2 separate regions of the Homo sapiens genome follow, and region 1 is linked to region 2. Evidence: fine-mapped expression QTL. A gene starts in region 2. The other region holds a variant in brackets. All regions are shown on one strand. Distances are between the middles of the regions.

Region 1 (5,000 bases), 37 kb before region 2:
TGGCAGATACACCACGGCAGGTGTATCTAATGGCAGGATTGCCATTAGAGGCATCCTATGATATAAAAGCCCAGAGACTCAGCCAGGGGAAGTGTCTGGCCACAGGGGAAGAATGGAGAGTGGAGATTACCATTGCTTAGGCCTCTTGATACTCACAGTTGTGCCACTTGGTGCTGGGGCTCCACTCACTCCAGGTGGTGTTATAGCACTGAGCCCAGGCCCTCACCCGTGCCCTGTAGGAAATCCCAGACTTCAGGGTGCTGGCTGCGATGCGGAGGGAGGGTTCTAGGTAGGTCACGTTATAGATTCTGAACTGGTAGAGAAAAGGGAGATGTTAGGGCACCAGCCGGGGGCGAGGGGCACCAGTGCCCACCCTGGTTGCTGTCGTTAGCTGACCCCACCATGTTTAAGAGCCACCAGCCTGGGTATTTGGTTGTTCGTCCTGTTCAGGCCATTGCTTGCCACCTCTGTAACTGTGACCAGGCTACAGCAACATGCGTCAGGCTCCTCGACTAATTAGCTGTATGTTACTTAGGCAAGTTGTTTAACCTTTCTGAGTTTTCGTGAGATAATTCAATCTCATCTGTAAAACAAGGGTAAGAGTCCCTACTACCACTTCCTGGCTGTGTGACCTTAAGTAAGTGACATAACCTCTCTGGACCTCAATGTCCTCATCTGCAAAATGAAGATAATAAAAGTGCCTATCTCCCTTCCCGCAGGGTTGTGGTGATAAGGAAATGGGTTAATATACGTAAGTATTTCAAATAGGGTTTGGTATACAAAAAGCACTGGGTGATCTTTCTAAAGGACTGGCAGGGTCGAGGCATCTCTCTCTGTCCTTCATGGGCTTCCTAGTGTCTCCATGGTCAAGTCCAAACTCACTGGCCTAGAATCCAATGCTCTGCCCAACCTAGCCTCTACTGAGAAGTGACTTCCAAGATCTATTGTTAAGTAAACAAGGGAAGATGCAGATGTGTATGTGTTCTCTGCTTCTTTTTATGTTTTTTGTTTGTTTGTTTGTTTTTTAAAGAGAGATGGGGCTGGGCATGGTGGCTCATGCCTGTAATCCCAGCACTTTGGGAGGCCGAAGTGGGTGGATCACTTGAGGTGAGGAGTTCAAGACCAGCCTGGCCAACATGGTGAAACTCTGTCTCTACTAAAAATACAAAAATTAGCTGGGTGTGGTGGCGGGCACCTGTAATCCCAGCTACTCAGGAGGCTGAGGCAGAAGAATCATTTGAACCTGGGAGGCAGAGATTGTGGTAAGCTGAGATCATGCCACTGCACTCCAGCCTGGGTGACAGAGTGACGACTTCGTCTCGGAAAAAAAAAAAAAAAAAAAGAGAGAGAGAGAGATGGCACAGTGATCACTGCAGACAAACCTAAGATGGCCCCGATGATCCCCACTTTGAATCACATCTTTGTGTCATCTGGTCTTCTCGAGTGTGGGCAGGACCTGCTACTTGTTTCTAACCCACAGAATATGGTAAAGGTGATGGGATATATAGAGGATTTCATGGATGTGATTATATTACAGAAGACTGTAATATCCTACTTGCTAGGCAAGTCTCTCTGCCTTGATGGCTTTGCAAAGGGCACATGGGAAGGAATTCAGGGTTAACTACAACCAACAGCCAGCACGAAACTGAGGCTCTCAGTTCAACAGCCTGCCAGGGACTGAATGTCACCAATATTGTATGAGCTTAGAAGTGACCCTTCCCCAATTGAGCCTCAGATGAAACTGCAGCCCCATCCCACACCTTGATTATAGCCTCACGAGACTCTAAAGCAGAGAACCTGGCTAAGCTATGTCCAGACTCCCAACCACAGAAACTATGAGATAATAAATGGGTGTTGTTTAAAGCTGTGAAGCTGGTAGTACCATTATTATGCAGCAATAGAAAACTAAGACAGCGATGACTGAACACACACATTTGCTTGTATAGACATAAGCTCTCTCTAAAGGATGCACATGCCCTCTGCCTGCCCTAACCTTGCCTCCCTTTCCCTTCTGGCAAGAGACAGACAGCAGTGGTCAGTCTCTGGGAAGAAAAACAGGAGGCTGGAGTCGGGAGAGAAACATGTTTCCATTCTAAGTCCTTTTGTACCATTTGTATTTTTATTTTGTGTAACTATTACTTTTACCCTCCAAAAAAGCTTTAAAAAGTGATACATGAACGCTATATTCATGACTGACCCTGATGGCAAGTGAGCAACCTGAGTTCTCATCCTGTCACCCCTCTCCCTGCGAGATCCAGGGCTATGCACCTCCCTCTCCTCTTCCTCAGCCCCCGGCAGTTTCTTCCTGGTTACTGGCAGCTCCATTTCTGCTTGTGGTTGGAAGCACATTTGGGGAAACCTGGTGCAAAGTGAGCCAAGGGGAGGTTTTTTCACAAGAAAGAAGCAAAGTTCCAAAAGATTGCTGGAGCAACTACAGAGAGTTCAGAGATTTTCCTATTACAGAGGGAGCTGAGGGTGGGGTGTGAGTTGTGGGGAGACTGGGGAAGGGAGAGAAAATTCTCACTCTCTTTTGTCTTTCTTTCTAAACATGAGCAAACAAGAAGCAACAGCTAGATGTAAGTTACCGAAGAAATCTTACACCCTGGAAGGGAGCTGGGAACTGGGAAATGTTTTACTAAGAAACAAAAGAGAAATCTGAGCTTCCAAAGAACTACTTGCGGTTTGTCTGTTTTTTAACAAGAAGGACAGGTGTTTGGGAGACCATCTCTGAGAGAAATGTCCATGGGAGGAAAAAGAGCACAGGCTTGGGAGTTCAAATACTGGGTGCAAATCTCAGATCTGGGCTGGATGCGGTGGCTCAAGCCTGTAATCCCAG[C/T]ACCTTGGGAGGCTGAGCCAGGGGGATCACTTGAAGCCAGGAGATCCAGACCAGCCCGGACAACATGGCGAGACCCTGTCGCTACTAAAAATACAAAAAATTAGCCTGGCGTGGTGGCCTGTGCCTGTAGTCCCAGCTACCTGGGAGGCAGAGGTGGGAGAATCACCTGATCCCAGGAAGTCAAGGATGCAGTGAGCCATGATCACGCCCCTGCATTCCAGCCTGGGTGATAGAGTGAGACTCTGTCTCAACAACAACAACAACAACAAAAACTCAGCCCTGCCATTTCCAGCTGTGTGACCCTGAGCAATGTGCCTGGCACATAGTAGGCATATAAAATATGGAAACCATTATGAGGCAGGCATTCAGGGCTCTAACTAAACTTTTGGCTTTGTTTGGTGCTTTATCGCTACACATATTCCCACATCCCCCAACCCCATAATCCTCAAACATTCCATGAATTTTCACACCCATAAACCTTTTATCATGCAGTTCCCTCTGCCTGGTCTACCGTTCCCTTCTTTCCCCATCTAGAAAACTCCTATGCATCCTTCAATGCCCAAGCCAAAACTCCCCCTCCACTATGGAACCTTGCCTAGAAATTATCTAGGGGAATGAATGAGTAGCTCTAGCCCCAAAATTCTATAGTAAGTTCCTAATGTTTCTTTCTGGAATTTATCCCACTCAGTATGAGCCACAGTTGGTGCCTATAGTGCTGTGGCAGATGCAGGTGGACACCCGCCCAGCTTTTATGCCATCGGGTTTAGGTGCCCACTGCTTAGGACAGAACTCCACTGCCTGCAACTCCAGGGCCAACCCTCATTAGTCTAAGCCAATTGTGCCAATCCCATCACCTGGCCTATCATTCATCAGAGGGGAGCATGTGGCCAAGCTCTGGCCAATCACTAAATTCTTTATGTTCAGCTCTGTTCTTGGGAAGGGAGAGATGGGGTATCTCAGTTGCCACTGTTCCACCCACAAGAGAAGCTGGACTTCATTCTTCTGCCTCAGACCTGGTATCTGGAGGCCTGTGGCATCCCTGAGCACCAACATACCCCTAAGCCATAGCCCAGGCATGCTGACCAATCCAATCCCATGACTGGCATCTGGTGCCACGTCTTAAACCTGGCTGGCATTTTAGCCAGCACAGTCCTGCTTCCTCTTCCCCAGTTTCCCCTGGGGAAGCCACTCCTGCCTTATTTTCAGTTCATCTGGTTTGGATGGAGCTGAGCCCACCTGCAGCCCTAGAGGCAGGTATGTGACTCCTCCCTGGACAAGCAGGGCCCTCCACCAGCACCCTCTCTCCACCCACAGCCAGTGATTGGTTCAGAGGCTGGCACAGCATCGAAGCCAGGCCACTGAGCAGCAGCCTTAGGACTCTTATTAGAACCGTCAAGAAAAAAAACCCTTTTCCCACTGTGGCTTTGGGATGTAGGCCTGGAGCAACTAGTAGGCATATCTGCCACTACATGAGGGAAGAGCCTGCCTAAAAACGAAGCCAGTACAGAATAAAGCAGGGCGCAGAGCTGGACAGGTTCCTAGAAGCTGGATCCAGCCATGCCTGAAGGCAGATCTAGAAATATGAAAATATTAAATAACATATCTTTGGACTCTGAAGGTGGTACCTTTCTCTTCCCCCCAGCCCATCCTTGGGACTCTCTGTAGGTCTTGCACAGGCCTGGGGCATGAGAAGGAGATTTATTGACCAAACAAAACTTGCCCCACTCTCTAGCATCTGTGCACTCCTTCCCCCCATGCCCCCCGCTTTCTGAGCCTCTGCTGTGTGAGCCAACTGCCCCATTCCTGCTCTTTCCCCATACCTGGCCCAGTGCCAAAGGGGAAACCAGACCTGAGAGATATAAATCGACACCCCTGGCTTGGCCAGATTGAGAGGAAGCAGTGACAGACACCAGCATGGGAGCTTAAGGTGGCGGGTGCCTGCTCCCTGAGAGCCAACCAGGCCCAGCCTGGGCCCCTGGGATGCACAGAGCCGGCCCTCACAAACCTCAAGGAACAAATGACAGACCAGTGTGTGGGACAGCGGGCAGATGGGGATCTCTGTGGCCTGGGGCACTCAAGAGAAAGGGCACATGGCTTTTAGGACACATGTGGGCCAAACAGGGGAGCTCATCTGTATCACACACCTTGTACTGTCATAGCCCTG
Region 2 (5,516 bases):
GTACTTAGGCGGCTTCTGTCCTGGCCTCACTCCCAGGTACCAGTGAGGGCAGTCGAGAGGTGGGGCATCTAATCCCAAACGCTCTCCTCCATCGTCCCAGATGGGGTGGGTGGAAGAGGGCAGGGAGATGGGGGAGGTAGAAAAGGTTCTCTCTTCTCATGTATTTATGTATTTGTTTATTTTGAGACAGAGTCTCGCTCTGTCACCCAGGCTACAGTGCAGTGGCACAATCATAGTTCACTGCAGCCTTGACCACCTGGGCTCAAGCCATCCTCCCACCTCAGCCTCCCAAATAGCTGGGGCTAGAGGCACCTGCTACCACGCCTGGCTAAGTTTTTAAATTTTTTTTGTAGGAACAGGATCTCACTATGTTGCCCAGGCTGGTCTCAAACTCCTGGGTTCAAGCGATCCTCTCTCAGCCTCCCAAAGTGCTGGGATTACAGGTGTGAGTCACTGCGCCCAGCTTGTCACTTCTTTGACAATTCATTTCAGCTCCTTTTTGAACTGGGAGCATTAGAAAACTGAACACCCCCACCCTTGCCCTGGGCATTTTGCAACCGGGATTGTATTGTATTAAACATATCAGTCATTGAGTCACTTCCTAGCATTTGGAAACCCTTAGGTTATCTCGGACCTGCCGGTAACTGCATGTGTTGTAAATGGGGTGAGTGACTGCAGGTTTTCCTCCCTGCTGCCTCCCCAGCGTCTCCCTCCAGATTCAGATCCAGAGGCCCAGGGTGGGGCCCAGGAATCTGCATTGTTGCTTTTACAACTCAAGCCAAGGTGAATACACTGGCCCAAGTTCCTTGGCATGGCATTCAAGGCTTTCCACAATGCAGCCCAGCCCAACTTTCCATCCATCTCTGGCTTCTGCTTACTCCCTAGGTTCTGTACACAGTGCCCTTTCACACTTCCCAGCCTCCGCCCACTCTGTGCCTCCCTTTACCTCCCATCCTCTACCTGCCAGACTCCCCTGCTCTACTCACAAGGCTAGCTCAGGGTCCCTGGGTGCTGGGAAGCCTGGCCCAGTGACCTTTGAAGAGCTGATCCCCTCTGGCTTGTGGTCCTGCAGCCGCTGGTGCATCCGCACCCTCCCAGCCCTCACGTCTGTCTTCCTGCAGAGGGGGTGCTCCTTGAGGCAAGCACCAGTGCCCAGAACACCACCCAGGGCCTCGCAGGAGCTGAATGAGTGCTAGTGAGTGAATGAGTGGCTTAGCAGGTCACCTCCCATTCATGGGCTGGGCTAGCCGAGTTCTAAGAAACCCCTGCAGGACCCTGGAATGCCCTAATGTGCAGGACACCCTGGCCAAACCTACACCTGAGCCTGTTTCCCCATTGGACTTTGGGATTTTGATAAAGGCACTGAGGTCCCAGCAAATGCCTTGGGCTCCTCATAGGCTACTGGGGGCAGGGAAGTGCAGTGGGTCATGCCTCCCAGAGGGCTGGGGAAGGGGAGAGACTAGAACTGGAGCAGGGTTAGCGCTGGCCTGGGGGCATTCCTTGAACCCCAGAAGCAGACAAACTAGTGGTCCCCTATCTTGCTTAAGTCTAAGAAATCCAGATTTTGTTTAAAAAAAAAATCAGGGCTCAGTGGCTCACACCTGTCATCCCAGCATTTTGGGAGGCCGAGGTGGGAGGATCACTTGAGGCCAGCCTGGACAACATAGTGAGACACCATCTTTATAAAATAAATTTTTAAAAATAAAATAAAGATCAGATTCCTGGGTTTACTGAATCTGAATCTCAGGGCAAGGACCTGGGAATCTGCATTTTAAGCAAATCTCCCGGAGATTCTGGTTATTGTGGGGGCTCCTCAAACGTGATTGAGAGATGGAGAGCAGCTGGCTCTGGCGTGGGATTGCCTGGGCTCTAGTCCTGCTGCCCCACGGACTCCCAAGTGGGCGGCACCTTAGGGCAAGTTACTAAAGCGGCTGGGGTCTTGGTGACCTCATCTGTACAATGTCCATGACGCACAGCACCGGCCACAGAGAAGTTAGTGGGAGGTTTCACTTGGCATCCTTTCAGTAAAACAAGTCCCAGTCAATGATCGCGATTATTGGGTCCATCTGATATTCGGAGGCGGAGACCGCCCCGATTCACTGACCTACTACTCAAATTTACAGTTCTCAGAACTTTCCCCACCCTTTCTCTCTCCGAAGTCCTCACTGACTTCCTGAGCGCAGGGCTGGGCGCCACTGCCCGGAGAAGAGGGGCTGCGTGGCCTCCGACAGCCTAACCCCAAGCCCCCCACCCCCGCAGGCCGTCCCGGCGGAGGTCTCACTGCCAGCACCGGCTTTGGGGAGCGCTGGGTGTCCACGTACCCCGGGCCTCGCGCCTCCGCTGCCGTTCGGCGGCAAGGACGGAACCGGGCGCTGCTCCGCGCGCACCGAGAGTCGCGGGCTCGGGCCCCGCTCGGAGTCGGGGTGGTCCCCGTGGTCCCCGCCGGCGGCCGAGCCCTTCCCGAACGCCCTCAGCCGGCGTGCCCGGGCGATACCTTCGCAACCCGATCCGCGCGCGGGCCCCGGATCCTACCTGCGCGCCCCTGCTCCATTCGCCGTCCGGGCGCCCAAGCGGGAAGTGGGGGACCCCTGGGTGGCCCTTCCCTGGCCCGCGCCGCGCGGGGCTTTCCTGGGCGCGGAGACCCAGCCCGCCCCGGCTTCCTGCTCCCCGCCCCGGCGCCCGGCAGATTTGCATGCGCCGCCCCGCCCGGCGCGCCCGGCCCGGGTCCCGGCCACCTCGCGCCCCTGTCGCTGTCCCCGCCGCCGCCGCCGGACAGTCCGAGCCGCCGTCCTCTCCTGGGGGCGACCCCAGCACCTCGCTGGGTGTCTTGCCGCGCGCTTCCTCCCACGCCGTAGCCCGAGGTCACGCCCAGCGGAGAACTCTGCAGTGGATCCCCTTGGTCTCGGAATAAAACGCCCACGCCGACCAGGCCTCCAGGACCTGCTCCTGCCTGGCCTCCGCGGCCTCTTTTGCGCCGGGGCAGTTGCGTTTGGTGGGGGAGGGCTGGGCGACTGGAATCCTCCTCCCCTTCCTAACAGCCCGGCTTCCAAGTGAGAGTGGTTGCACATTCTTCAATAAATGTTTACCCAACTCCTACTCCAGCCACATTTGGATAGTAAAACAGCCCTTCAATCAGTAACTAGTACAATCTGTCGGGCACTGCAAATGTTAACTCGTTCAATCCTGGCAACTACCCTATAAGGGAGTGATACTATCACCGGTTTTACAAATCAGGAAACTGAGGCACAGAGTCCTTAAGAAATTCAAAATGGGTTGGGCAAAGTGGCTCATGCCTGTAATCCCAGCACTTTGGGAAGCTGAGGCGGGAGGATCACTTGAACCCCATAGTTCGAGACCAGCCTGGGCAACCCTGTTAGCGAGACCCCTATCTACAAAAATTGACATTTATAAAATTTTAAAAAAGAAAAGAAAGAAACTCAGAATCACTCTGCAGGTAAGCAGGAGCAGGGGTGGAGCTGGGATTCGAACACAGGCCCCATAGACCATTAACGTCTGGACACCATAAGAACCCGGATGCAGCCAGATGACTGGGGGGAAAACACTCAACAAAGTATTTCAGGTCAGGAGGGCCCAAGAAGAAAGTAGGGACCTCTTAGACCAGTGGGGCAGGTGGTCTGGAAGAGGCTTTTTGAGTAGAGGCCATTTGAGCTGAGACTCTGAAGAGCCTATGGGGGAAGACTTGTGTAGGGAGAGGGAAGAGCTAGTGCAAAGGCCCTGTGGGAACCAGCTCAGCCTGCAGGAGGAATTGCTGAAGGCCGGCATGGCTGTGGAGCCCTGAGTGAGGAAAGAGCGGAGACAGGGGAGGTGGGAGATATTTGGACTCACACTGGGCAGTGCTGAGAACCCAGAGAGTAATTTGACCCCCTGCTGCCCTCAAGGAGCTCTCAGTTTGAGGGTGGAAGCCAAGGACTGCCCAATGGGATCAAGTGCTGTGGTGGAGGGTGAGGGTTGGCTTCCCAGGGCAGGGGCCACTGCACGTCAATCATTCTTTTTTTTTTTTTGAAGATGGGGTCTCATTCCATTGCCTAGGCTGGAGTGCAGTGGGTGATCTCAGCTCACTGCAACCTCCACTTCCTGAGTTCAAGCAATTCTCCTGCCTCAGCCTCCTGAGTAGCTGGAATTACAAGCGTGCACCACCACGTCCGGCTCATTTTTGTATTTTTAGTAGACATGAGGTTTCACTATGTTGGCCAGGCTGGTATCAAACTCCTGACCTCAGGTGATCTGCCTGCCTCTGCCTCCCGAAGTGCTGGGATTACAGGTGTGAGCCACCACGCCTGGCCCATATGTCAATCATTCTTTCATGTACTTGGTCTGTCTTGGTCCTACTGTGTGTCTAACCTTGTGACAAGCGCTGATGACGCAGACCTGAAGACATGAAACAGACACAATCCCTGCCCTCTGAGACCTTACAACCAAGTGAGCAAGACAGCCACCAACCCACCCCCGGAAGTGACAGTAAAGATAAGTCAGTTCCCTGGGGTCAGGGATGGCTTCCTGGAGGAGGTGACCTCTGACCAGTGCCTGAATCAATGCAGAAAAACATGCAGGTGGAAGGGACAGCATGAGCAAATACCTGGAGGTGGCGTGGGAGTGTGGAAAAACTCCCATCCTTCGGCATCTGTTTGTGGATGCCTCCATATGCCAAGTCGTGAGCTGGGGGCTAGGGAGAGCAAGAAATAGATCCAGCCCCTGCTTCCTAGCCCTGAGGACCTGGTTGGGGCACTGACAAGTGAGCAGACGTAAGCAATTGAAGTGAACAGATGTAAGCAATTGAGTGTAATAAACCCCGTACTGGGGGCAGCCCAGGCAGACGCTAAGAGGACTAGGGAGAGAAGGCCACAGGAAGGGCTTTCCTGGAAGCTTGGGTTTCAGGAGGAATAGGAATCCTCTGGATTAGGTGTGACTTCCACTCCCGTCCACACTCATACTCCCTCACACTCATTACTCACACATCCGCACACCCACACGGTTGATGCTTCATCCCAGGCAGTTCAGCCCTGCAAGCTGCCTTTGTCCTGTCTGTGTTTCTGAGTTTGTGCCCCATGTCATCGGGAGACGACAGCAAAAGTCTACCTTTGAAGTCCTTTGGGAATGTATGGCTTGGGCTATATCCCCTCCTGGACTCCCAAACTGGGCTCCCATCCTGTTTTCCCAGTCAAGTCATCCTTCGTCGGTTTCCTCGCTTGCCTCTAGACTGCCGGCATTGGCATACCAACTCTGCTACGTATTGACTATGTGACTTTGGGCAAAGTAGATCATCCTCCCTGTGCTTCAGTTTCCCCATCTGTAAAATGGGGATAATAATAGACCCACCTCATAGGGCTATGAAATGGTGAAATGGCAAGGTACGTATCGCAGTGCCTAGAATAGTGCCTGGCGTGGATTAGGCATTCAAAATGTCAATTGCTGTTCTTATCAGGATGAAAATGAGAAAGAAGCAAAGTCGAAGCCTGTTGCCTTGGTCTGTTGCTTGGTTGTGAAATGGAGATGAA

The links. PIP is the estimated chance that this variant, and not a neighbour inherited with it, causes the effect.
Region 1: its variant is the best candidate, but not a certain one, in a credible set for the expression of IL4R in whole blood (TOPMed, PIP 0.82).

What each region holds. Positions count from the first base shown.
Region 1 is chr16:27,347,853-27,352,852 of GRCh38, reverse strand. It overlaps IL4R (interleukin 4 receptor), which reads right to left. Exons shown (of 11, transcript NM_000418.4): 7 at 157-313. Among named protein-coding and RNA genes, the nearest start is that of IL4R, 36 kb to the right of the region's middle. The variant C/T (reference allele first, on the strand shown) is at 2,837.
Region 2 is chr16:27,311,037-27,316,552 of GRCh38, reverse strand. It overlaps IL4R (interleukin 4 receptor), which reads right to left and starts at 2,579. Exons shown (of 11, transcript NM_000418.4): 1 at 2,533-2,579. RefSeq lists silencers at 1,839-1,888, 2,329-2,538, 2,559-2,858 and enhancers at 2,636-3,366, 4,189-5,388.